Linked DNA regions of Homo sapiens: regions 1 and 3 are each linked to region 2. Evidence: fine-mapped expression QTL. A gene starts in region 2. Each other region holds a variant in brackets. All regions are shown on one strand. Distances are from middle to middle.

Region 1 (8,182 bases), 53 kb after region 2:
TTTCAGTTGGCATCTGAAGTGGGGGCAGTCTCCTGGGACTGAGCCCTCAACCTGTGGGATTTGATGCTGTGTTTGGATAGATCATGTCAGACTTGAATTGGAGGATACTTAGCTGGTGTCCACTGCAGAACTGATTAATTGATTGGTGTGTAGGGGAAGAAAGCTCCATACCTTTGGTTACAGACACATTCTGTGTTGATTGTTGTGGGGTAAGAATAGAGGAAAAATAGTTTATTTTTTTGTCTCTAGTCACAGGATGGAACATAGAGCGCTGTTTTTATGGCTTGGGATTAGGAGGAGGGATTAGCTAGAAAAGGACCACTTAAGGACATTCAGAGGATGATGGAACTCTTCTGTATGGTACCCTCTTGGTGGATACATAACACTATGTGTTTTTCAGATCCCATGGAATTGTGTACAACAGAGCTATTTTTTACTGTATGCAAATTAAAAAAAACAAAATCAACCAGGAACCAAAGATAGAATGCAAACTATGACAGAAGATCTAAGTGTATTCAAATGAATGACCTAACCACATTGTAGGAGGTGGAGGAGAAAATCGTATGTTGAGTGGATATTAGGCTAAAGACAAAAAGTACTGTATACAAGTACTGTACTCTAGTTGATATTTTTTTTCTTACCAGGATATGGGCTAACAATTCTGTTATCCTTACCAGGATATGGGCTAAAAATTTTTTTGTGTACATGTACACTTAACATATATACCAGGATTGAATAAATAAGTAGCAAAGTTTTTACTGTCAGAGACAGAATCAAAGGAAAAATGCTAGAACAAACTCTGTGGATGTTGGGTTGAAGTCAGAGGTATCGGTATGAATCAGTATGAGTGCATGCTTTTAAATACACAGAGAGTTGCACACACACAGAGTTAGTAGATATAAAAGTAGATATGGCTATGTGTGTATACATCGGTTAGTGTATATATGTCTTTGCTCTGTCCACTTTGAGGACCTAGAAGCAGTGACATCCCAGTACCAGTGAGCAACCTAGTACCCAGATTTTGGTTTCTAAATACCATTCTCTAATAAAAGGGACCTTGGAAAGCTTTGGAGAAGTGTTTTATTCTAGTACTGGGTCAGCAGAAACATAAGATGAGCTTAGAATATTTTGTGGTGTCAGAAAGTAGGCAAATACTTTTAAAAAGAAAGACAAAAAAAAAAAAAAAGAAAGATGGCGCATGTCAAAAGGGTACAGGAGCCAACCCGAAAGATCTCACAATGGCCAAAGCTGTAATAATGAGCTACAAAATAACAGTAATATTGGATTATGGCCCAGAGCTTAAAAAATACCCATGAGCCTGTACTGATAGGAATAAATGATTGAGCAAATAAATAGGAGAGAAAGAACAACTCTTCCTTATAGAAGTATTACAGATAATAAATGTGGAAGGAAGGAGGGCAATAGAAAATCACCATGGGAACACCACTGTAACACTTGCCTCAGTGAGACTCACCAATGAATGCAAAGTTAATGGGCAGAACCTTAATAAATATTTACCCAAAAACTTCTCCCAAAGGATATTTTATTTTGTATATTTATTTATTTATTTATTTATTTATTTTGAGACAGAGTCTCGCTTTGTCACCCAGGCTGGAGTGCAGTGGTGCGATCTCGGCTCACTGCAACCTCTGCCTCCCGGGTTCAAGTGATTCTCCTGCCTCAGCCTCCCAAGTAGCTAGGACTACAGGCACCCACCACCACACTTGGCTAATTTTTGTATTTTTTAGTAGAGATGGGGTTTCACCATATTGGCTAGGCTGCTCTTGAACTCTTGACCTTGTGATCCACCTGCCTCAGCCTCCCAAAGTGCTGGGATTACAGGCATGAGCCACCATGCCCAGCCCAAATAATATTAAAAAGAAAAATAGTGACTTTATAATGGAGAAACCCAGCAGACATCCCCTCATGTAAGTGATGAAGGTTACCATCACCAGTAATCAGATACTGTGTCCTCTCTGCATAACGATGCACTGAATGGGCATATCACTTCATTGCCCCCTACATTCACAAGCACATCTAATTATGGGAAAACTTAAGATAATCCCAAAATGATGTGCATTCTTCAAAATACCTGACCAAGATTTCCCAAGTGTCAGGGTCATGAAAGACAAGGAAAGACAGCGCTGTCACAGGTCAGAGGAGCCTACAGAGATACAGCACAGCTCCATGCAGTGTGGGTTCCTGGATCAGATCTTGGACCAGCATAAGGACATAAGCAAAACAGCCAGGGAAACAGAGTGAAGTCTGTAGTTTAGTTAATAGTGTTGTGTCAATGTCAGCTTGTTAGTTTTGATCATTATACTGTGACGATGTAGATATTAATATCAGGAAGCTGTGTGAGGGGTATGTGGGAACTCTGTTCTCTCTGTGCAGCTCTTCTATACGTCTAGAATTATTTTAATGTAAAAAGCCTTTGTTTTAAAGCTAACCAATGAGAAAAAGGGAAGAATACGTGTTCTTTGGTGTAGATGAAGGAGCATCAAGAGCAGAAAGAGACTTTGTGCCTCCCTAAGCCAGACTTTCATTTTACAGCTGGTTAACTGAGGCCCAGAGAGCTCGGGGGGCTTGGCCAAAGCCACAATGCAAGTAGCTGGAGGGCAGGACTGGGATTGGGGGAGCGGGGCGGGGTGGGGAGCGGGGTGGTTCCTGACTCATAATATGCAGCTATTTGATCTTATCCTATCTCTGCTCCAGGGTTGCATTTTCCTCTAATTGTTCTGATAATGATATTTCTGCTTTCCATGTTTTTAAAAGTAGATTTCATAGTCTTGGTTAAACATCATGTTGAATCAAATACCACCCATGTTCCCTGTTGTGGGTGTCTTGTTTTCCTCATTTCTACCCTACAGGTGATGGCTTATGTATTTGTCTTACTCTGTTCAGCAGAAATTGGAGACCAGCAAAAGGCCTCCATCTGGAACTTCCACTACCTCCAAGAGCACCTCTCCAACCCTCACGCCCTCCCCCTCACCCAAAGGGCACACTGCAGAGTCCTCAGTGTCTTCCTCGTCATCCCATCGGCAGTCCAAGAGCAGTGGGGGCTCCAGCAGTGGCACCATCACAGATGAGGGTGAGTCCCCTGAGGGCCTGAAACCCCACCTATTCCTCTCACCATGATGACCTGGCAGCAAGGAACTGCAAGGTGACCTTAATTGCTATAACCATCCTAGGTCAGGTTTTAAGAAGATTTACGACAAACATGTCCCTCCTCTTCTCTGATTGTACCTTGTATTTTTGTCTTCACTATGCTAAAGGTATGGTAAGCTCCCTCAAAGAGTTTTTGAGTATAGGTGATTTTTGTTTACATGCACAAACATACACCCATGGAAGTGCTTCTCCAACACGAACTTACTTTCCCTGGACCCTGTACCTGTCAGGATTCTTTCAGTTGTGAGTGAGAGAAACTCCACTCACACTGGTTCAAGGGAAAAAAATGAAACCTGACATTTCATTGGCTCATATGATGGGAGTGTCTAGGGTGTGCTTCAACCATGCCTGAAT[T/C]CAGGTGCTTTGGGAGTGTTTCCAGGTCTCAGGTAGGTTCTCTCCAAGTGGTGGCAAGCAGCTTCAGGCATACTTTTGTCTTCCCACCAATTTTTCAACTCCAGCAGAACGAGTGCTACTTTCTCAGTAGGTCCAGCAAAATCCCAAGTGTAAAGGCCATTGGCTTGGCTGTATTTATAATGACCTAGGTCAGTTGCCCTCCCTTGACTATCTCTGTGTCCACAGGGGTGGAATGTGGTGATTGGCCATGCCCCTTCGGTCAGTTGTCTGCTTTGGAGCGGAGTTGGGGTCCAACCTACTGACATATGTGTATTGGAAGTGGGAGAGAAATAGTTCCTCAAAGGAAAATTTGGAAATACTGTTTCCAGGAGAAGGGGGATGGGTGAGGGCAAGCAAAAGCAGTTGATGTCTGCTGCAACCAGGAGAGCCTTGGAACCTGCCTTGTGAATTACAGCCTCTGCAGCCCCCATGCGGGAATGATGAGGGAAGATGGAGTGGGTGGTAGGGCAGGAGCAGAGGCTTTGCAGTCAGGCCCCAGGAAAGATAAAGGCAGATGAAGAAAGGAATCCCATCCTTTTAAACTGCCCTCTAGAGGCCTGTAGGAGCTGGGATGGGGGAAAGAGGGAGGAAGCTTTGGTGAGACCTGGGGTCCAGGCAGGTGCAAATCGAGGAGTATAAGTCAGCAGGGAGGAAAATCTGATTGTGTTCGTGGCCCTCACAAATGCGTTTGCGGGCAGTTCGCTGCAGCTGCTGAGGAGTAGGGTGCTGAGCAGGTTCTGCTGAGCAAGATAAGTTGGAATCACTTGCACAGGCTCTAGTCTGTACTAAGTTGATAAATGCATGCTGCCACTGGTGTCCTCCTTATTTGGGGGCTGCTTTTATTGTTTTGTGATATCCAGTGTGATCATTTATCAAGGCCTCAGAGATTCACCAGCAAACTCATTCCTCCCCAACCATATTTTCTATGTGGAGTCTTGAGTTCCACACTCGTGAATTCTCCCACCTCTGAGGTTTTCAGGAATTGAAGCCCCTAGAGATTCAGTTAGGTATTTGTGCCCCATTGTTTTCCAAAAAAGAGTGGAGACAGTGGATGTCTGTATGGACTGTTTGTACCCACTCTCTTTCCCTCTTGTTCATTATTAAAAATGGTTTGCAGAGTCCTAATTGGGATGAAAAAAGAAGAGGGCCAATAGCACTTTCTTTGTAGAATAATTTCTCTGGTTCATAAAGCTTAGTTTTCCTGTTGAGAGTTCCTGGGTCCTGAGGCAGCGAGCCCTTTGTCCTGTGGGTATATGATTGTTATAGGCCGGGGGCTGCAATCCATCCCCGAAGAGCTTTTTTTTTTTTGAGACGGAGGCTTGCTCTGTCACCCATGCTGGAGTGCAGTGGCGCGATCTCGGCTCACTGCAAGCTCCTCCTCCCGGGTTCACACCATTCTCCTGCCTCAGCCTGCCAAGTAGCTGGGACCTCAGGTGCCCGCCACCACGCCTGGCTAATTATTTTGTATTATTAGTAGAGACGGGGTTTCACCGTGTTAGCCAGGATGGTCTCGATCTCCTGACCTCGTGATCCGCCCGCCTCGGCCTCCCAAAGTGCTTGGATTACAGGTGTGAGCCACCACGCCCGGCCCCCAAAGAGCTATTTTTATTATATTCTTCTGGGAAATATTTGGTCCCAGTCAAGGACACGTGAGCTTTTCCCTGCCTCATGTCTCCATCTGCATTCCTCCTCTCTGGACTCCACCTGTTGAAGCAGCAAGGCTGGTGACAGCATCACCTTCTCAGCCTCACATTTGTTCCAGGAAATTTTCTTGGGCAGTCCCCTGGATGCCCTAACCTATGCACCCAGGGGAACTCACAGGGATACAGACACATTCAACATAATGACATTAGAGTGTAACACAAGGTGAGGTCATACCTGTTATCAGCAAAGCACCATGTGCCATGGTAGGCTCCCCTGGTGAGCGGGCACTCCAGCTGGACCACGACACTGGGAAGAGATGGGCAGTGGGGTGCCAGAGCCGACTGTTCAGTTTATAGGACATGCCCAAGCTGGTTGTTAAACACAACCATTATTTACAAATTACATGAACTTCGAATTAACTGAATTATAGAAATATAACAGTATATTGTACTTAAAATGTATTTTTTACTCATTTTTGTATATTTTATTATCTGTGCTCTTGAGGTTGTGTATATCTCATACCTGCAGTGTGAATACCCCGTAATGATGTGTTCCTACTGCGCATCTCTGCTCAGCTTCACTTTCAGGGGCATTAGATTGGTAGGTTGAAATTGGCTATGATGGGGGTATTTACACCATGGAAATTGGCAAACACCATCAATCAGGGCTTGCTTTTTTTTTTTTTGAGATAGGGTCTTACTCTGTCACCCAGGCTGGGGTACAGTGGTGTGATCACAGCTCACTGCAGCCTCAACCTCCCTGGTCTCAAGCAATCCGGGGCTTGATTTGTTGTCTTATAGATATTGTCTACATGTAATCTAGGCAGTGATGGGAAAATGTTAACAATGAGGATTAAACTTAAAAGTAGGTTGTATCTGTAACCGTTATCTTGTGAGTAGCACAAAAAATTGAGAAAATACTCTTCCAGTATTTGAAAACCATTATCTGATTCAGCCAAGTTGCTCACCTGAAGTTCCAACGTAAGTCTTTGTTGTTTCTTTTTTATGTTTCTTGTTCATGTAAACAAAACTCTCAGCCAGTGTTCATGTTGGAACCATACTCCTTGGCTGTGGGTACAAGAGTAGGGCAAAAACAAATGAAAGCATTTGGTGAGAATCAATTGGCTATATGGAATTTATAAGAAAGAATATTGTATTTTTTATTATTTGTAAATTGTGTGCTATAAATCCTTTATATCAGTAAATCTGCAATAGATTTATGTGCCTATATACATGCATACACCTTCCCCCGAGAACCAGTTGTTAAACATTTACCAGCACACCACTGTGGACCAAGGCTGCATGTGTAGGGAACAGCAGGAGCAAAGGTTTGGTGTCATGAAATACAACAGATTATGTGTGGATTGGGATTTGATTTGTCTCATACATCCTCGCTCAGTAGCCTCTCTACTGTGAAGCTTTCCCTAGTACCTTGGGCTGGGTCAGCTGTTCTCTCTGTCCCCACATCCCCCTGTTGTTGCTCTTCACCATAGCATGCACCACCCATGAGAAAAGTGGAGAGTGGGCGCCTAGCACAGGCCTGGTAGCTAGACCACTGGGCTTGAGTCCCTGCTTTGCCACGGACTAGCAGGATGACCTCACCCAAGATGTGGTATCAAGCCTTTCTGTGCCTCAGTTTCTCATCTGTAAATGGGGACAGTAATAGGATCTACCTCATTGGTGTTGTAAAGAGCAAGTGGGTCATCCATGTACAGGCTGGCTGATAGCACTGTGTATTAGCTTTCATCCTCCTCATCCTATCCTCCCAGCCACACTGAGCTTCATGACAGGGACCTCTCCATCCTTGCTACCTAGTGTCCATTGGGCACAGTGGTAGTCACTGCTGGAAGGAAGGAAGGAAGGAAGGGAAAGAGGGAGGGAAGGAGGGAAGGAAGGTTGGTTGAATGAATGAGTTAAAAAAAGAAGGAACCTAAGCCTCCTAATCACTTCTTTAAGCTGCATGCACTGCCTCACAACCTTTACACCTGCTCTTCCCTGTCTGGATGCTGCCTAATGCTCTTACTCCAGATATCTGCATAGCTCACTCCTTCATTTACTGCTCATAGATCACCTTATAGGAGAGTCTTTCCGTGACCATCTTCTGTAAAACAGCGTTTGTAAAACTGGAAATGCTGTCATTTACCTTGATGCTGCTCTCTTCTTCCTTGCTGTCTTGCCTATCAGCCTTTGTTTGTTTGTTTGTTTGTTTGTTTGTGACAGGGTCTTGCTTTGTAGCCCAGGCTGGAGTGCAATGGTGTAGTGGCATAATTGCAGCTCACTGTGGCCTCAAACTCCTGGGCACAAGTGATCCTCTTGCTTCAGCCTCCCGAGTTGCTGGGACTACAGGCACACACATCACACCTCCTGGCTAATTACTTCTAAATTTTTTGTAGAGATGAAATCTCATTATAGTGCCAGGCCTGGTTTTGAACTTTTGGCCTCAAGTGATCCTTCATCCTTGGCCTCCCAAGATCCTGGGATTACAGGCATGCACGACCTGCCCGGCCTCTGTCAGCCTTCTTATTGTCTGTTTTGGTATCTATTGAGTCCCCAGTTCCTAGTTTGGCAAATCCCTATTGAATGTGTGAGTAAATATTTCTCCAAGCCCCTCAGGTGCTGGTTTTGTCTCCTTTTCTTTATTCTCCCTGTTCTGACACCCCAAATCATCTTCTTGTGCCCTTGTGGCTCTGCTGTTCCACATAGATGCCTTTTTCCTTCAGGAAGGCCACAGCCTCTGCACACTTGAGCCAAACCCTGGTTCTGGTCTGAAGCCCACCATCTTCTTTCTTAAGTTCTTCCTCACACTAGCTAAGGACTTGCTGGCATTGGCATTTACTGCAGGCATTGGCATTTATGGTGCTTTCTCACACAGAAGGCAGAGTTTTAGTTCTGGCAGCTGGAACTTCCAGAACTTGAGGGTCGCAGTCTGGAGGGAATCAGTCAGTCCTGGCCCAGACTCTCTGTGTCTTCACAGCCTG
Region 2 (8,182 bases):
AAACATATGGACACAGAATGAGTGAAAGAAAAAGGTATCAGGAAAATACTAACCGAAATTGAACATGTTCTGTGGATTTGAAGTACTGGAGTACTGACTCAAGAAAGAATGCCACTCTGATGTTCTCAAGATGGATCTAATAAGAATTCATAAAATATCCACAACTTTGTTGGGGAAACAAAATAAACATCAGTCTAATGTCCTACTCCCTTCTGCAACCCTAGCAAGACATACTTTTGCTTAATTACCTGTTTAGAACCACTTTGAGGCTGGGCATGGTGGCTCACGCCTATAATCCCAGCACTTTGGGAGGCCAACACGGGCAGATCTCCTGAGGTCAGGAGTCTGAGACCAGCCTGGCCAACATAGTGAAACCCCGTGTCTACTAAAAATACAAAAATTAGCTGGGTGTGGTGGCGCTTGCCTATAATCCCAGCTACTCGGGAGGCTGAGGCAGGAGAATGGCTTGAACCCAGGAGGTGGAGGTTGCAGTGAGCCAAGATCGCACCATTGTACTCCAGCCTGGGCAACATAGCAAGACTCCATCTCAAAAAAAAAAAAAAAAAGAACGACTTCGAGACTCTTTGCCATCCCAGCACCCAAATCCTGACCCCTGAACTCAGACACACATCTGCAATTATAGTATTAACAAGCCTAAAACCAGAGCAAGTCAAGAAATAAAAACACCATGCTTTCCTTGACCAATGGTTCACAGTTCTTCTGCCCTGGTAGAGAATGGCTGGTGTTCACACATATGGGATTCCTGTCATAGATAGACCTGAAGAAATGTCCAGCCCTGAGGGCACTGTCTGTTACTCCACTCTCTCTTCTACTAAATATCAGAATGCAAATGAGAATGATGTTACAGTGATCATCTCAAGTTCCCCGTATTCTATGGAAACTAAAACTTTTTGCAAATTTTGGTACAACATTACTAATAACCATTTCCTTGTGACACACCACTCAGTTGACTATGATGTCATCACTGGCTTGAACTACATTTGACCTGTTATTAATCCTTACTTTCTCTAGTTCTGGTATTCTCCACACCCTCCAAAACACTCACCCTAAATCTTCTGACTCAGAAATCCACAGGCTCTAGGCCAGTAGCTTTCACCCGTGGTTGCATATCAGATTCAGCCTAGGTCCTAGCCACAGATATTCTGATTTCATTGTTTTGGGGAAGATTCCTGGCATCAATATATTTTTTAAAGTTCCCCAGGGCCACACACCCAACTATCTGTCTCCCCACTTTGACCCGCTATCATCTCAGAGTAAAAATTCACCTTCTTTGCTGAGATGCTAGTCATACTATACTACTATGCTTACTGACTTACTTACTATACTTATTTATATTAATATATATTAATACTTACTATGTTACCATGCAAGGAAGGATTCCTAGTCATCATTAGCCTCCTCTTCAATTCAGTGCTGTAACTAACAAAACTATACTCGAATCCACTGGCATGTAAATTATTAGATTCATAGAGGGGCCCAGGTCTATACTGGCTCTCACAGAATTAGGACCAGTACTCTAAAATGTCTTTTTAGTGGTCTGGCCTTCTTCAAGAAGGCAGACACAGTGCCACACCCTGCTGACACCAGGAAGAGTCAAACCAAGTGGTCCCTTAGTCATTCCCAACTCCTTTCCTCTGATAAAAGGCACTGCAGAGTAAAGACTTTCATTAAAAGTCTAGGAGGCACAGCAAAATGTTAACAATGGTTCTCCCTGAGTGGTAGGTTTATTGGGGATTTTCATTTTTTTCCTTTTCTGTTTCTCTGTGCATGCCAACATTTCTAGAGTGAATATGCATTGCTTTCATAATTAAAATAAACATAGAAATAATCATCCCCACCCAAAAAGGGAGGAACGAGTAACAGATATGGACTGTGGCTCTGCCTGAGATGTGCTATGTGACCTGGGGGTGTGGCTTTTCCTCTCTGGTTAGACTAGATGCTCCTCCCTCAGGGCCCTCCCTCCTGCAACATTCAAGGACCCTCATTATCCCTCTGTTTATTAGACTCGCAGAGAACCCCATACCCACACTGTGAACTTATGATCTGCCATTCAGGTTTCTCAGGCAAAATCTCAAGACCCTGATTAGCTCCTGGATGAACTGTAATAAAAGTGAGATGCCACAAAATACCCTGACCCTACTGACCACTCTGAAGTTACATCTCAAAGCCTGGCCCAACAGAGACCCACACAGCTCAGGCTCACCTTTCTCTCTGGCTGGGTAAGAATAACCCAACAGGCCTTGCTGCAGGAATTAGAAGCAGGAGGCATTCACACTCCTTATCATGCTGGGTTTGGCTTAACTTCCAGGGTCAATGCAACAGCAGGATCTACAAGCAAATCCTGAGAGGACACAGGGCAGCTGCGTCACCATGGAGACAGGTTACCATAAGCCCCACAGATTGTCCACAGTGTTTCAAAGAGATATTCACAACCTGCGACAATAAAGGAAGTTGGATCCAGGAAAGAAAAACTACAACCAATCCCTGGATGACTCTCAAAAGCAACCTCTTGAGTACATTCTTGGCAACAGGGAAAGGTGAAAAAACTAAGATTTAAGCACACAGTGTGCTCCCAGGTATTGATGCTTTATTAATTCCTAAGTTGTGTTCTTTCCACTCACTTTTATGTAGAATGCATGGAGACTCACTTTTATGAGTTTCCTATTTCGCAAACGAAGGGAAACCAAGGCTCTGAGAGGCTAAGCAGCTTGCCAGAGATCACAGAAGTGACGAGCAAAAGAACCAGGATTTTATCTCCCCTGGGCTGGATTTAATCTGAAGCTGGGTATAACCTGAAAGCTTCCCCTCCACCTTGCCTCAGCGGGCACCCTCGGGGTTTCGAGGAGCTAAACATGCGTTAGGCTGGTGAGTGGAGGAACTACTATCAATCCCAACAAAGTTTTATTCAAAAAGACTAACAGTGAAAAATGCCTCAGGCAGAAGCATGAGGCTAGGCATGAGGAGATCCCCAAAACAGGGAAGACAGTGGAAACAGTGGGGCAGAGGTGGGGCATCCTCATTCCATCATTCATGGTCTCTCTGGCCAAGGTACCATGGAGCAGGCCCCTAAAATCCTGAGATCAGCATGGTGCCAAGTGGGCCAGAAGGGCCATAGTCCCTCCAGACCAGTCCTACCACATTCCAGCTGAGGGGCCTTGGGTGGGTCACCTATCCTTTCCGAACCTATTTCCACACCTGTAAAGCAGGAATGGCTTGAAGGGGAGAGGAGTGGCAGGTGCCTGGTGCACACGGCAGGCTGCCACCACCAGCTCCAATGGGAACCCCCTCTCTGAGTCCTCTTTTCCTCAAAGTCTGTAAGGAAGGGGCTCAAAAAAGGACTTGGAAGATCCCTGACACTTCGAAGAAAAAGTGAGAGCCCGGGAGGCCCAGCGGCAAAGGTGGCAGCAGCCACCTGTCCTTCCTCCTGCTGCCAGCGTGTGCCCTGGATCCCCACCTAGGCAGGGGCGCAACCTGCCCAGCCAGTAGCTCCAACAGGAACTAGGCCTCTGACCACGCTGGCTCCAGTCCAGCACCACCCACAGGAGTGAGCTGGGGTGGATCACGGCCAGAAGGAGCCCTTCCCACCCCGTGCCCCTTCCCGCCTTCCTCCACCCAAAGCTCAGAAATCCAATGCCCAGGGAGAGCACAAGGAGGCTTTCTAGCGCTGAGGGGGCCTTACAGCCATCTTTCGCTTCACCTGTGGGGCGCTCCCTCGCATCTTGTTTGTCCCTTAGGCCCTGGCACACACAGAGAATGAATGGAGCCGGTCACCGCCCGGAGGAGTTGTCAGTTTCGCGGAGGCACTGCGAGGCGGGCAGAGCGGGGTTGTCCTTTGGGTGCTGGGGGGTCCTCGCCTTAAACCCTTCTGCTTAGCCCTGACCCTCACCTTTTCAGGGAGATGATAACTTCTCAAGGAGAAGGGAGCTAAGAGATCACTAACAGACTTGCCAATTTCTGGTAATTTTTTTTCTACTTTCGTCTTTTTTACTTTCTTGCCTCCCCGCCCCCATGTGAGCTCTTACACTATCGTCTTCGGAGAAAGACTCAATAAGACGCGCCATCCTGGAGACCCCAGCTCCCCGCCCTGCCACTGCTCTGATGGAGAAACTGAGGCCCGGGGCTCTGAGGGCGGGCTTCCTCCCCAGAGCTGTGCACTCACAGCGGGTTCCAGCGCTCGGGCAGGCGGCGGTGCAGTGAGATGCGGTCGCTGAGGTAGATGTTAATCTGGTGCAGCCGCACGCTCTCCTCCTGCAGCCGCAGCTCCTCGCCCTGCAGCTGCAGCCGCACCGCCTCGCCCCGCGCGCCCAGCGCGTTCGCCGGCACCGGCGGCCGCGGCATGACCGGCTCGCGCCGCCCGGGGCGCGGGGTGCGCGGGGGTCCCGGCTCGGCAGCCCCGGCCCCGGCCCCACGCTGCGCCCGCAGCACCGAGCCCAGCCCGGCCAACGCCAGTAGCGCCAGGAGCACCAACAGCGCCTCCCGGCCGCGCCGCAGTTCCCGCGGGCAGCGCCGCCGCGCCGTGCGCCCCCACATGCGCCCGCCAACTGCAGCCAGCGATCTGCGCGCCCCAAGGCGGCGGTGGAGGCCAGGACCCGGATCCCGGAACCGCCGTGCCGCCCCGCCCCCGGCCCGCCCCACCTGCGCGCCGCCCCCTTTCCGTCCAGCCCCGCGCCAGCCCAAGCGCAGCCCCCGGGGTGGCTCATTTCGGCAGGGTCTTCAAGTGGGCTGGCTGAGACTTGCATCTTCCTTCTTGGGCTATGGTGCATTATTAAAGAGATAGTGGTGGTAAAACCCTTAGCGCCTGGCATATTGTAGGCGCTAAGTGTTGGCTGAATACACCCTGCAGGGTGTTATGAATTCTACTGCCATTATCTCATCTGATCTTTACACAGTCCAATAAAACAACCATCAACTAGGATTACGAGCTCCCTTTTACAGATGAGGAGATGGAGGTGCGATGAGATCAACAGACACCACGCTGCCCCACTGACTTCTGCAGGCCCAGCCTCTGCCATACTCTTTGGAGTCCTTGAATAGCAAACCCTCGCCTGGCTCGCCTCGTGATAGCTCTGTGACCTCTGAGGCTAGGAGCAAAAGGCCATGAAGGCTGTACATGATAGTTCACACCTGTAATCCCAGGCCGAGATAGGAGGATCACTTGAAGCCAGGAGCTTAAAACGAGACTGGTCAACATAGCAAGACTCCCATCTCTACAGAAAAATTTCAGAATTAGCCATGCATGGTGGCACGTGCCTATAGTGCCAGCTACTCAGGATGCTGAAGCAGGAGGATTGTGTGAGCCCAGGAATTGGAGGTTACCGTGAACTATGCGCCACTGCGCTGCAGCCTGGATGACAAAGCGAGATCCTGTTTCTATTAAACAACAACCAAAAAAGGCCATGAAGCTGCCGCCCTGTTCATGAGATCACTGCTGTGGGAGCCTTGAGCTGCCAGGGACGAAGTAAGTCTAATGGAGTAGACAAATATTAAAAAGATAATTAGAATTGTGTTAAGTATTTTGAAGAAGAATTACAGGGCGCTAAAAGGGCTTAGAATAGTAGAACTTGATCTAGTTTGGGGGTTTTGGAAAGCTTCTCTGATGAAGTAATGTCTACACAGATATCTGAATGTAAAAGTGATAGCAGAGATTTCAAATCATATCTTAAATTAATCTGGAACTCCCTCTGCTGGTGTCTAGCTCAGGGAAAAGAATCATTCTGTATCCCCTGTAGAAGGATAGAGTGTAAGCTCTATTTGTTGTTGTTTGTTTTACCATGGGAAGTTGGTCCAAAGCTTTTTATCAAATATTCTCAAGGAGACCAGAAGCCCAGAAAGTTTAAAAAGCACAAATCTGGTCCAATTATCTCATTGATAAATGCGGGGTCTGAGACACAGGGTGGGGAGAGGACCTTGAACTTGGCGGCTCAGGTAGAGGTAGAATCTGACTTGCTGTTGTCTTCATACAGCCTTTGGCTACTGGTATCCCCAGAGGAAATCTCCCTCAGGTTGCAGGAGGGGGGTGGGTTTTGGGATGAACCATGCAAAGCAGCTCCCACTCAGGACAACCTGCTGCTAATATTAGACTAGAGGGAAGTGGCTCTTCCCACAGTGCTCAGGGCCCCGCCTGCTTCCCACGCAGAATGGAGGCTGCTGGTTAATGCCAGAAGGCGGTTGTGTTAGGTAGGTCTGGACCTGAGCCCTTTGGCCTCTGTTCAGACACCCAACACATTTAAGATCTGCGGTCAGATTAGAAAACAGACAAGGATTACAATTCATAATGTCTTGGATCCGCTTGCCAAATTGGAATGCTTCTCAATAGAGGTTCAGATACAGAGAAAAGAGAAATGCAATTAGGCCTTACAAGACATGGACTTAAGCCCCAGGTAACAGATAAAAGCTATTGTTTACTGAGCACACACTGTGTGCTGTAAACTGCTGGACTTTCTTTTTCATGTACTTTCTCATTTCACCCTATGACAACCTTGCAAGGTTGACAGATGAGAATATGTAGGCTCAAGAAGTGAAGCAACTTGCCCAAGGTTACACAACATGCAAGCGGTAGAGGGAGGATTTGTATCTGGGTCTCCTGACTCACAGTCCAGGATTTCCCACCACACCACTCACTGTTGGGCAGGCTGCAATGAGATGCAAAGGCAGCTTAGCTTAGGAGGTCGGAACACAACCTTGGAGCCCACTTGCCTGAGCTCAACCCAGCCCCATCACGAATTGCAGTGTGACCTCAGGCAAGTTGCTTTACTTATCTCGGCTCAATTTGCTCATCTATTAAATGGTGATCTAATGATAGCACCACCTGAACAGGGTTGTTGAGAAGATTGAGTGATACAGTCTGCACAGTCAGCCTCCCGGGGCACAAAACAGAGTGGAGAGAGTGTCAGTAAGGCAAAGGGAAGATGTCCAGCACCTTGCTGAGTGAAGTATGATATTTAGACCAGAAGCATTGGTACCACCTGGGAGCTTGTTGGAAATCTAGCATCTTTTCAACAGAGGTAAAGCCCTTGGGTTTATTGCTATTTTTAGGGGGCTTATCTGTTCACTAACAGTACCATGTTATGTCATCGGCTGCTCACCAACAAGTAGATATCTCTAGAAGATGCTTTTAATTTGTCATATTAGCTCTCTTCATAGGAGTTATTACATTCCTTTTAGAGTTTAATATGATCTATGGTAGATGTGGTATTTCAAATATTAGTGGGGAACATGTGCCTAATTCAAGTAATAATTGGGACAACTTGATAACCATTTGGAAAAAATTCAAATCAAGTCCCAACATCACACTTTACATCAAAATAAATTCCAAATGATCTGAAGATGCCACAGTAAATAAGCAAAAAAAGGAAGGAAGGAAGGAAGGGAAGGGAAGGAATTTAATTATAAAAGTATTGAATGAGAAAAACCAGAGACCATATGGAAAATATTTCTAAATGTGACTATATAAAAATTTTGAATTCTGTAAGGCTTCCAGTATAATACAAAGTCCAGAAACAAAAGGCAAGTCAGAAAGAGATATTTGCAGATGACATTTACCCAGTATGTGAATCAATAGGGAAATAAAGAGAACAAACAGAAATAAAAATGGTCAAAGGATTTAAATAGACAGTTCCCACCCAAAAGGATATAAATAGTTTATAAAAGTATGAAAATATGCTCGATCTCTCTAAAATACATACAAAATAAACCTACCCTGAAATATTTTTTCACCTATCAGACTGGCAAAAATGAAAATGGCTATTAATTCCAGTGTTGGCAAGGATGTGAAAAAACACTCTCATCCACTGTTGGTAGGAATGCAAACTAGTATAACCTTTTGGAAAGCAATTAGGCAACATTTATTAGAAATGTTAATATTAACATCTTTTTGATTTTGCAATTCCACATCTAGGAATCTATCCAACAAACATAGACTCGTAAGTGCTCAAAAGATATGCATACAAGGAAGCTTATGGCAGTATTGTATATAAAAGCAAAAAGTTGGAAACAATCCAAATTTCCATCAAGAGATTATAAAATAAAATATTGCACATCCGTACAATACCATAATATACCACAGTGCTATTTGCAAGCATGAGTTAGTTGTAGGCATTTAACATACACATGTGTTCAAGATGCATTGTAAAGAAAAGAGAAGCAAGTCGTGGAGCTATAT
Region 3 (8,169 bases), 23 kb before region 2:
AGTTAGCCAAGAAGAAGAAGGGAAATGGAATGGTTCTCCAGCATGAGCAAAGGCTTAAGGGTGGGAGAAATCCAGGGACATTTAGAAGCATAGAGAGCAAGGAGAAGAGAGAAGCAAGAGACCACGTTCCGAGAAGAAGGCAGGCTCCAGGCCATGGTCATCTGAGGAGGTGTGATCTCACAAGGCAGGCACTCACAGATGCCACTCAGAGGCCAGTATGCAGAAGGCCCTAAAGGCAACTCTGGCATCTGAAAGTGCCCCGAGGGCCAGGTCCTCTTGAGTGGTTTCCTCCACTAGGACCCAGCTAGCCAGCCTCAGGCTGCTTTTTCAGCCAGCCTTGTTTCCCGCCACCCACCACCAGGTTTATCTGGAAGCCAGCACTAACCAGAAACGGCCCACGGCTTCCAGCCTACACGGCAGAACACTGTAAGGTCAGCACGTCCCAGAGTTGCACAGGCAAAAGGATGAATTCAGAAATAGGGAAAGGGCTGGGCACGGTGGCTCATACCTGTAATCCCAGCACTTTGGGAGGCTGAGGCGGGCAGATCTCCTGAGGTCAGGAGTTCAAGACCAGCCTGGTTAATATGGCGAAAACCTGTCTCTACTAAAAAAATGCAAAAATTAGCTGGGTGTGGTGGCCCACAGCTATAATCCCAGCTACTCAGGAGGCTGAGGCAGGAGAATCACTTGAATCCAGGAGGCAGAGGTTGCAGAGAGCTGAGATCATGCCACTGCACTCCAGCCTGGGTGACAAAGCGAGACCCCAACTTGAAAAAAAAAATAGGGAAAGAGAACATTGAGAGCGCAACCACTGAAAATGTTAACATCCTGCAGCATCGGGGCCTGCCCTGGACTCCAAGCATGGGGCCAACTGAGAAGACAACAGCAACATCCCCAGTGGAAGGGAAGGTTCTAGACTACAAAGCACCTTCACGTGTGTTTATCCTAAAAATCTAGGAAATAAGCAGGGTGGATATGCTGGTACCTATTATACAGATGAGATAACTGAGGCACAGGGATATTATGGGATGGGGAGGATAGGTGCCCTGAGCATGTGGGGTAACGGGGCAATTAGAATTCATGGACCCCCATGAATTCATGACAGGCTGCCTAAGTAGCCTAGATTAGAGCCTCCTGCTCTGTGTCTCAGTTTCCAAACCTATTCAGTGAGGGATTGAGCAGGATGTTCTCACTAAGGGCTCCTACAGAAGCCTGGGTGCCATTCTTAATTCCTTCCTTCCCCAATTCCCACTCAATTTCTTCCAATTCTTCCATCTTAACATCTCTGGAATCCACAGTGCCCACCATCTCCTGAACCATTGTTTCTGACCTGGAAGACTGCAGAGCCTCCTAATGGTATCCCTGCCTACAACGGTCCCCCCAGGGCCCTCACCACATGGCACGCAGCACATGCTCAGGTCACTTCCTGCTCCGATCCCTTCAGTGGCTTCTACCTGCTCAGGGTCAAGTCCAAACCCCTTCCCTTGGCCCCGCCCATCTCTCCAGCCTTATCTCTGGACACTCTCCTTGCTTGCTCCACTCCTGCCAGCAGCGGGTCATCTTAAGGTCAGGACTCTGGTGAAAGAATTCAGAAGCCCAACTGCCAAATGTGGACGCAAAACTCAGAGCCTACTTCCGGTTCAACACACCAGCGGTGAGGCTGAAGTCCTGACCTCCTCCTGCCCAACTCCCACATCTGTCTCCCACTTGCTTCTGAACTTGGAAGGGGAGGAAGAAGCCAGGCTATCACTTCAAAACCTCCAGAATGAGAGCTGCTGAGCCTCCCTTGGGCCCATTCTACTCAGAGCTTGACTCACCCACTGGCCAGAGCAGACTCCTCCACCTGCCATGGATCCACCCACACCCCAGGTCAAAGGGGCCTAAAGATGTTTCCTCAAGAATGAGCATATGACCAGCAATCCCACTCCTAGGTGTATACCCAAAAGAATGGAAAACAGGGACTCAAGCAGATAAAAGTACACCGATGTTCATAGCAGCATTATTTAACAATAACCAAAGGACAACCCAAGTGTCCACCAACAGAAGAATGGATAAACAAAATGTAGCATATATGTACAAAGGAATATTACTCAGCCATCACAAGGAATGATGTTCTCTAGGAAACTTGAAAACATGATGATAAGTCAAAGAAGCCAAGTACAAAAGGACAAATATTGTATGATTCCACTCACATGGGGCGCCTGAAAGAACAGAGGTTCCCAGGGGCTGGGAAGGGGAGAATGGGAAGTTATTGCTTAGTGGGGATATTTTCTGTGTGGGATGATGAAAAATTCCTGGAAATAGGTAAAGATCATGTTTGCACAATACCGTGAATGTGCTCGATGCCACTAAAATTGCATGCTTTGTTTTATTTATTTATTTTTTTATAGAGACAGGGTGTCACTCTATCGCCCGGCTGCAGTACAATTGCGTGATCATAGCTCACTAAAGCCTTGAACTCCTTGACTCAAGCGATCCTCCTATCTCAGCCTTCCAGCTAGCTAGGCCTACAGATACACACTAGCATGCTCAGCTAATTTTTATTTTTTTGTAGAGATAGGTTCTTGCTATGTTGCCCAGGCTGGTCTCAAACTCCTGGACTCAAGCAATCCTCCCACCTTGGCTTCCCAAAGTACTGGGATTATAGGCATGAGCCACCATGCTCAGCCTAAAATTGCATACTTCAAAATGGTTAAAATGGTAAATTCTCTATGATGTATATTTTACCACAATTTAAAAATTAAATAAATAAAATATACCGATATAAAATTGACATGTGTAGCAGACACGTTTAATAAAAATAAACAAATACTCTGGGCAAAAAAGTGGGAAGAGGGGAGGTAGTTAAGCTGACAGCTAACCATTCCTCCCGAGGGCCTCCGCTCACAGGTCAGCCAGATTCAATGAGGCATGCTTAAAAAACAAGTCACCCAGAAGTCAGCTCCTGACCTGATGACATCGACGGGGGATTGCATCCGTATCCTCTCCCTCTCAGGAACTGTGTGCCACGTGAACACCAGCCTCCAGTCGAAACCGCCGATCTGGGGCTCCCCGGAGTTCCCCAGGTATTCGAAGGTGTTCCAGTCGATCACATCAATCACCGGGCACACCACTGCCGACTCCTCTTCATGGATCCTGAAAGCACCCAAGACATCCATCCGTCTCTCCTATGCAGACGGGCAGCAGGAAGACAA[T/C]TGGGAAATTCAAGGGTGAATTCTTGTCTTCCTTCCAATAAGAGGGAGGAACATCTGAGAAAGACCTGCTTCTCTTATTCCAGGTGTCTGCAGCCGTGTCAGAGCCCTGGCAGGTGACCACCATGGGGGAGATCTGGGGGCCACGGAGGGCTTTAAAACAAAAAGTCCCATGACTTTAATATGCTCTGATTCTATCCATGGACATTCTGACCAAACGCTCTATGATTTCAATTTCTCAGAAGTGCAAGAGGTTTAATCACAATGAAACACCTTAACATCAAGAAATACTTATCTCCTAAGAACAAAGGTGCACCCAGACCAAAGGGTCAGCTTTGGAATTAGAATATAAATTCTAATCCTGCTATTTATTTGTTGTGTGACATTAGCCAAGTCACCTAACTTCAGAGCCTATTGCCTCAGTGGTAACACTGGAATTATAATATCCATTCAGAGGGTTAATGTGAGGACTTCCTGGGAAAATGTTTTTAAGATAGCTGGCAGAGAACCTGAAACTATTGCTATTTTTTTATTTTAATGTTTGTTATTGTGAAATATTACATATAGTGAAAAATGCTATAATTTCCTTTTGCAGGTATCAGCCTGTGTGTTGGCTTCAACGGTTCTCTCCACATTATTACAAATCTGGCCATCCCTCAGCATGCTTCCAGGCCGTGTTTCTTTGCATTTGCCACTACACCAGGAAAGATGGACTGAGACTAGACCACGTGTGAACACTAGATTTCCTTGAGTACATTTTGGGGGACGTTGTCTGGAATTTGAGACCTAAAAATCCTAAGAGTCCTGCCACACAGGACAGTGCAACAGAGATCAACCAGACTTGAGCTTTCGGTGTCCTTAGAATGACACCAGAAAGTCAGAGGGGATATTAGAAATACCACTCTGGGGTAAGAATTACAACTATCGGGAAATTGCACTGTTCAGAACAGGTTGCGTGAGACAGGGTCTTAGATCTGTGAGTTCCCCAAATTGAGGAAGTTGCATACTAGGTATCCACCAACATCCGCTTATTTAAAGCAATTGAGGGCATTATTTAAAAGGTTGAAAGGGCCAACATCAGACCTGCTGGGCAAGTTCTAGCTGGCCCCTGGCAAAGGCCAGCTCCCCCAGGAACTGATGGCTTGTGATCAAGCTGGCTGGAACCACAGAAAGCCTAATTTTTACAAGGAGGGGAAAACTAGGGGAATGCTGTACCAGCATTGGAGTATAGGACTCCCAGTCGTGGCTGGAGAATGTGCAGGACCCACAGGGATGCTATTGGCATCTGGGCCAGAACCATTCTCCACTGAACAGGGCTGATCTGCAGGATACTTGGCCTCCCTGATACACAAAATGCCAGGAGCCCTACCTGGTTGACATGACAACCAAGAATACCCTCCCACATTTCCAAAAGCCCCTGGATGGAAAGGGTTACCACTCCTGTCTGGGGCCACCTTAGGGAGAGTCCACAGTCTGATGTGTCCCAATGCTCGTGCACACCAAAGTCCCCTGGGGAGCTTTTGAAACATGCAGAAGCCGAGGCCCCAGCCCCAAGAGTTAGATCCAAATGGGACCAGGCATTGGTGTGTTTAAAAAGCTCCCCAGGTTGAACCCTCACACACCGTTGGTGGGAATGTAAATTAGTACAACCTCTATGGAGAACAGTTTGAAGGTTCCTCAAAAAACTAAAAATAGAGCTACCATATGATCCTGCAATTCTACTCCTACGTACATATCCAAAAGAAAGGAAGTCAGTGTATCGAAAATATATCTGCACTCTCATGTTTGTTGCAGCACTATTCACAATAACCAAGATTGGGAAGCAACCGAAGTGTCCATCAACAGATGAATGGATAAAGGATATGTGGTACATATACTCACAATAGAGTACTATTCATCCGTAAAAAAGAATGAGATGCTGTCATTTGCAACAACATGGATGGAACTGGAGGTCATTACGTTAGGTGAAATAAGCAAGGCACAAAAAGACAAAGTTTGCATGTTTTCACTTATTTGTGGGAGCTAAAACTTAAAACAATTGAACTCATGGAGACAGAGAGCAGAAGGATGGTTACCAGAGACTGGGAAGGGTAGTTGGTTGGGGGAGTGGGGATGGTTAATGGGTACAAAAAAATAGAAAGAATGAATAAGACGTACCAGTTGCTAGCACAACAGAGTGACTATAGTAAAAAAAAAAAATAATTTAATTGTACATTTAAAAATAACTGGCTGGGCGTGGTGGTTCATGCCTGTAATCCCAGCACTTTGGAAGGCTGAGACGGGCAAATCACTTGAGGTCAGGAGTTTTACACCAGCCTGGCCAACATGGTGAAACCCCATCTCTACTAAAAATGCAAAAATTAGCCTGGCATGGTAGTGCATGCCTGTAATCCCAGCTACTCAGGAGGCTGAGCCAGGAGAATCACTTGAACCTGGGAGGCAGAGGCTGCAGTGAGCCGAGATCACCCTACTGTACTCTAGCCTGGGCAACAGAGCGAGACTCTGTCTCAGATAGATAGATAGATAGATAGATAGATAGATAGATAGATAGATAGATAGATAAAAAAAATTACTAAGAGTATGACTGGGCCAGGTGCAGTGGCTCACGCCTGTAATCCCAGCACTTTGGGAGGCTGAGGTGGGTGGATCACTGAGGTTAGGAGTTCGAGACCAGCCTGGCCAACATCGTGAAACTCTGTCCCTACTAAAAATACAAAAACTAGCCAGGTGCGGTGGCACGCACCTGTAGTCCCAGCTACTCAGGAAGCTGAGGCAGGAGAATCACTTGAACTTGGGAGGCGGAGGTTGCAGTGAGCCAAGATCACGCCACTGCCCTCCAGCCTGGGTGACAGAGTGAGACTCTGTCTAAAAAAAAAAGAAAAAAAGAGTATGAGTGGATTATTAGTAACACAAAGATAAATGCTTGAAGGGATGGATATCCCATTTCCTCTGATGTGATTATTATGCATTGCATGCCTGTATCAAAATATCTCATGTACCCCATAAATATATACACCTACTATTTACCCACAACAATTAAAAATTAAAATATAAATTTTTTAAAGTTTCCCAGGTATTTCTAACAGACAACCGAGGTGGAAAATCCCCTCTTCCACAGGCATGCAGCAAGGAGGCGGCTGGCCCATGTCCAAAGGGTGGGATGAAGAGGAATTCTAAAAGCATTAATCCATCAGCTGCAGAGAAAGAAATGTCCTCTCCCCATGATTTCAGACCTGTGTAGAGGTGGCCATCTATGAGTGCAGTGGGGGAACGAAGGAAGGGGAGCCCATTGGTCTGGGTTCCAGAGGGAGCACTCGGCCATAACTGTGCTCTAATCTCCAGCTCCATCACAGGCCAGAGGAGCCTCGAATCTGCTGCTAGGAAAGCTCATCAGAGCTGAGGAGGAGAAAGAGACAGCTATAGAACCTGCAGCTGACAAGAAGCCAGGACAGTAGGAAGTGGCAGGGCAGGGGGCAGCTGGGTCACACCCAGGAAGGAAGGCAAGTGGGTCCCCAGCTCTTTCAGACAACCCTAACAACCATGGAGTTGGCATCTGCGGGGAAGCAGTTCCCCAGCTGCAGAGACCCTGCCCCTCCAGCCCTTTGCCTGCTCCACAGCGGGGAGGCCAAGCAAAGATCCCTTCCTTCCTCTCCCACCTGGGGAGCTTCTGGTTGGCAAGCCCAGCTCCTGACTTCTATGATGCAGAAACAGAAAGGGCAGAGAGACGAGGCAGAGCATGGGGAGGAAAGAGACAGAAGGGAACAAAAAGTGGGCCCCAGTAGATGGTGGCTTCTTGAGGGGGGAAGGTAGGAGGGTGAGAGTGAGATGCCGTGGAACAGCAAGGACAATGGCCTTGAGAACAGGGTTACATTATGACTTTCAGGGACCCTTCCTCTATAACAACCAGACATATTAAAAAGCATATTTTATGACTATACTGGTATAAAGACAAATACAATCCATGCTAGATTCATTATTACATACCCATTATTATGATATTCATTTTTCCCTTCTGATTTTAAAAGAAATTCATAACATTTATCTGGGTTCCTTCCAGTTTCATGGGCCCTAGGCATTGTTCCTCCTGGGTGTAAGGGTTAAGTCAGCCCTGCTTGAAAGAAATACATCAAAATGTGTATTCTTTAGGAGTGCCATTCTATTTGACTGAGGATTTTTTAAAATGTTCTTGGTTGATGATACTTCCTCGGTTTTCTGCAACAAGCCCGGATAAAAAGGAATAATAAGGCCGGTGTGGTGGCTCACGCCTGACGTCAGGAGTTTGAGGTCAGGAGTTTGAGACCAGCCTGACCAAAGCAGTGAAACCCCATCTCTACAAAAAAATATAAAATTAGCCAGGTGTGGTGGTGCATGCCTGTAATCCCAGCTACTCCGGAGGCTGAGGAGGAGTGAGGAGGAGAATCGCTTGATCCCGGGAGGCAGAGGGTGCGGTGAGCCGAGATCACACCATTACACTCCAGCCTGGGCAACAAGAGTGAAACTCTGTCTCAAAAAATAAAAAGAAAAAAGAAGGAATAATAAAAGCAAACAGTGACACAGGGCCTTCTCCAGCTGGCACTCCCAGGCACTTGCCATGCACTAAATCATTTAACGGTCTCAACAGCCGAACTAAGCAGGGACTGCTCTCCTGCCCAGTGACAGAGAAGCAGCTGAGCCCAGGCAACCCGTTAACCCTCAAGTGACGTGATGAGTCTGTTCCTCATGCTACCTACTCCAGGTAACATGCTGTCTCTCCCATGGTGGGCGGCTCACGTACCTCTGCAGCAGCGGCTCCAGCCACCCTTCGTGGCACTCACAGTGACAGTCCAGGAAGGTCAGAACATCGCCCCTCGCCGCAGACGCCCCCAGCAGCCGGGCTCGCACCAGGCCCTCTCTCTTGTTGGCGCGGATCAGGCGCACCTTGGGCAGTCCCGAAAGCTCATTGGCCAAGCGCTCCTTCAGGTGCTCTAGGGAGGCAAAC

The links. PIP is the estimated chance that this variant, and not a neighbour inherited with it, causes the effect.
Region 1: its variant is fine-mapped to the expression of GALNT12 in whole blood (TOPMed, PIP above 0.99).
Region 3: its variant is fine-mapped to the expression of GALNT12 in whole blood (TOPMed, PIP above 0.99). The same link has a PIP of 0.9 or more in blood mononuclear cells.

The regions. Positions count from the first base shown.
Region 1 is chr9:98,751,329-98,759,510 of GRCh38, reverse strand. It overlaps ANKS6 (ankyrin repeat and sterile alpha motif domain containing 6), which reads left to right. Exons shown (of 15, transcript NM_173551.5): 12 at 2,908-3,091. Among named protein-coding and RNA genes, the nearest start is that of ANKS6, 41 kb to the left of the region's middle. The variant T/C (reference allele first, on the strand shown) is at 3,523.
Region 2 is chr9:98,804,068-98,812,249 of GRCh38, reverse strand. It overlaps GALNT12 (polypeptide N-acetylgalactosaminyltransferase 12), which reads right to left and starts at 4,580. Exons shown (of 10, transcript NM_024642.5): 1 at 4,181-4,580. The coding sequence starts at 4,551. LOC124902229 (a long non-coding RNA gene) reads left to right here and starts at 4,670. Exons shown (of 2, transcript XR_007061689.1): 1 at 4,670-5,479. RefSeq lists silencers at 4,439-4,508, 4,609-4,698.
Region 3 is chr9:98,826,738-98,834,906 of GRCh38, reverse strand. GALNT12 (polypeptide N-acetylgalactosaminyltransferase 12) reads right to left here. Exons shown (of 10, transcript NM_024642.5): 3 at 7,966-8,155; 4 at 2,950-3,135. Among named protein-coding and RNA genes, the nearest start is that of GALNT12, 23 kb to the right of the region's middle. The variant T/C (reference allele first, on the strand shown) is at 3,195.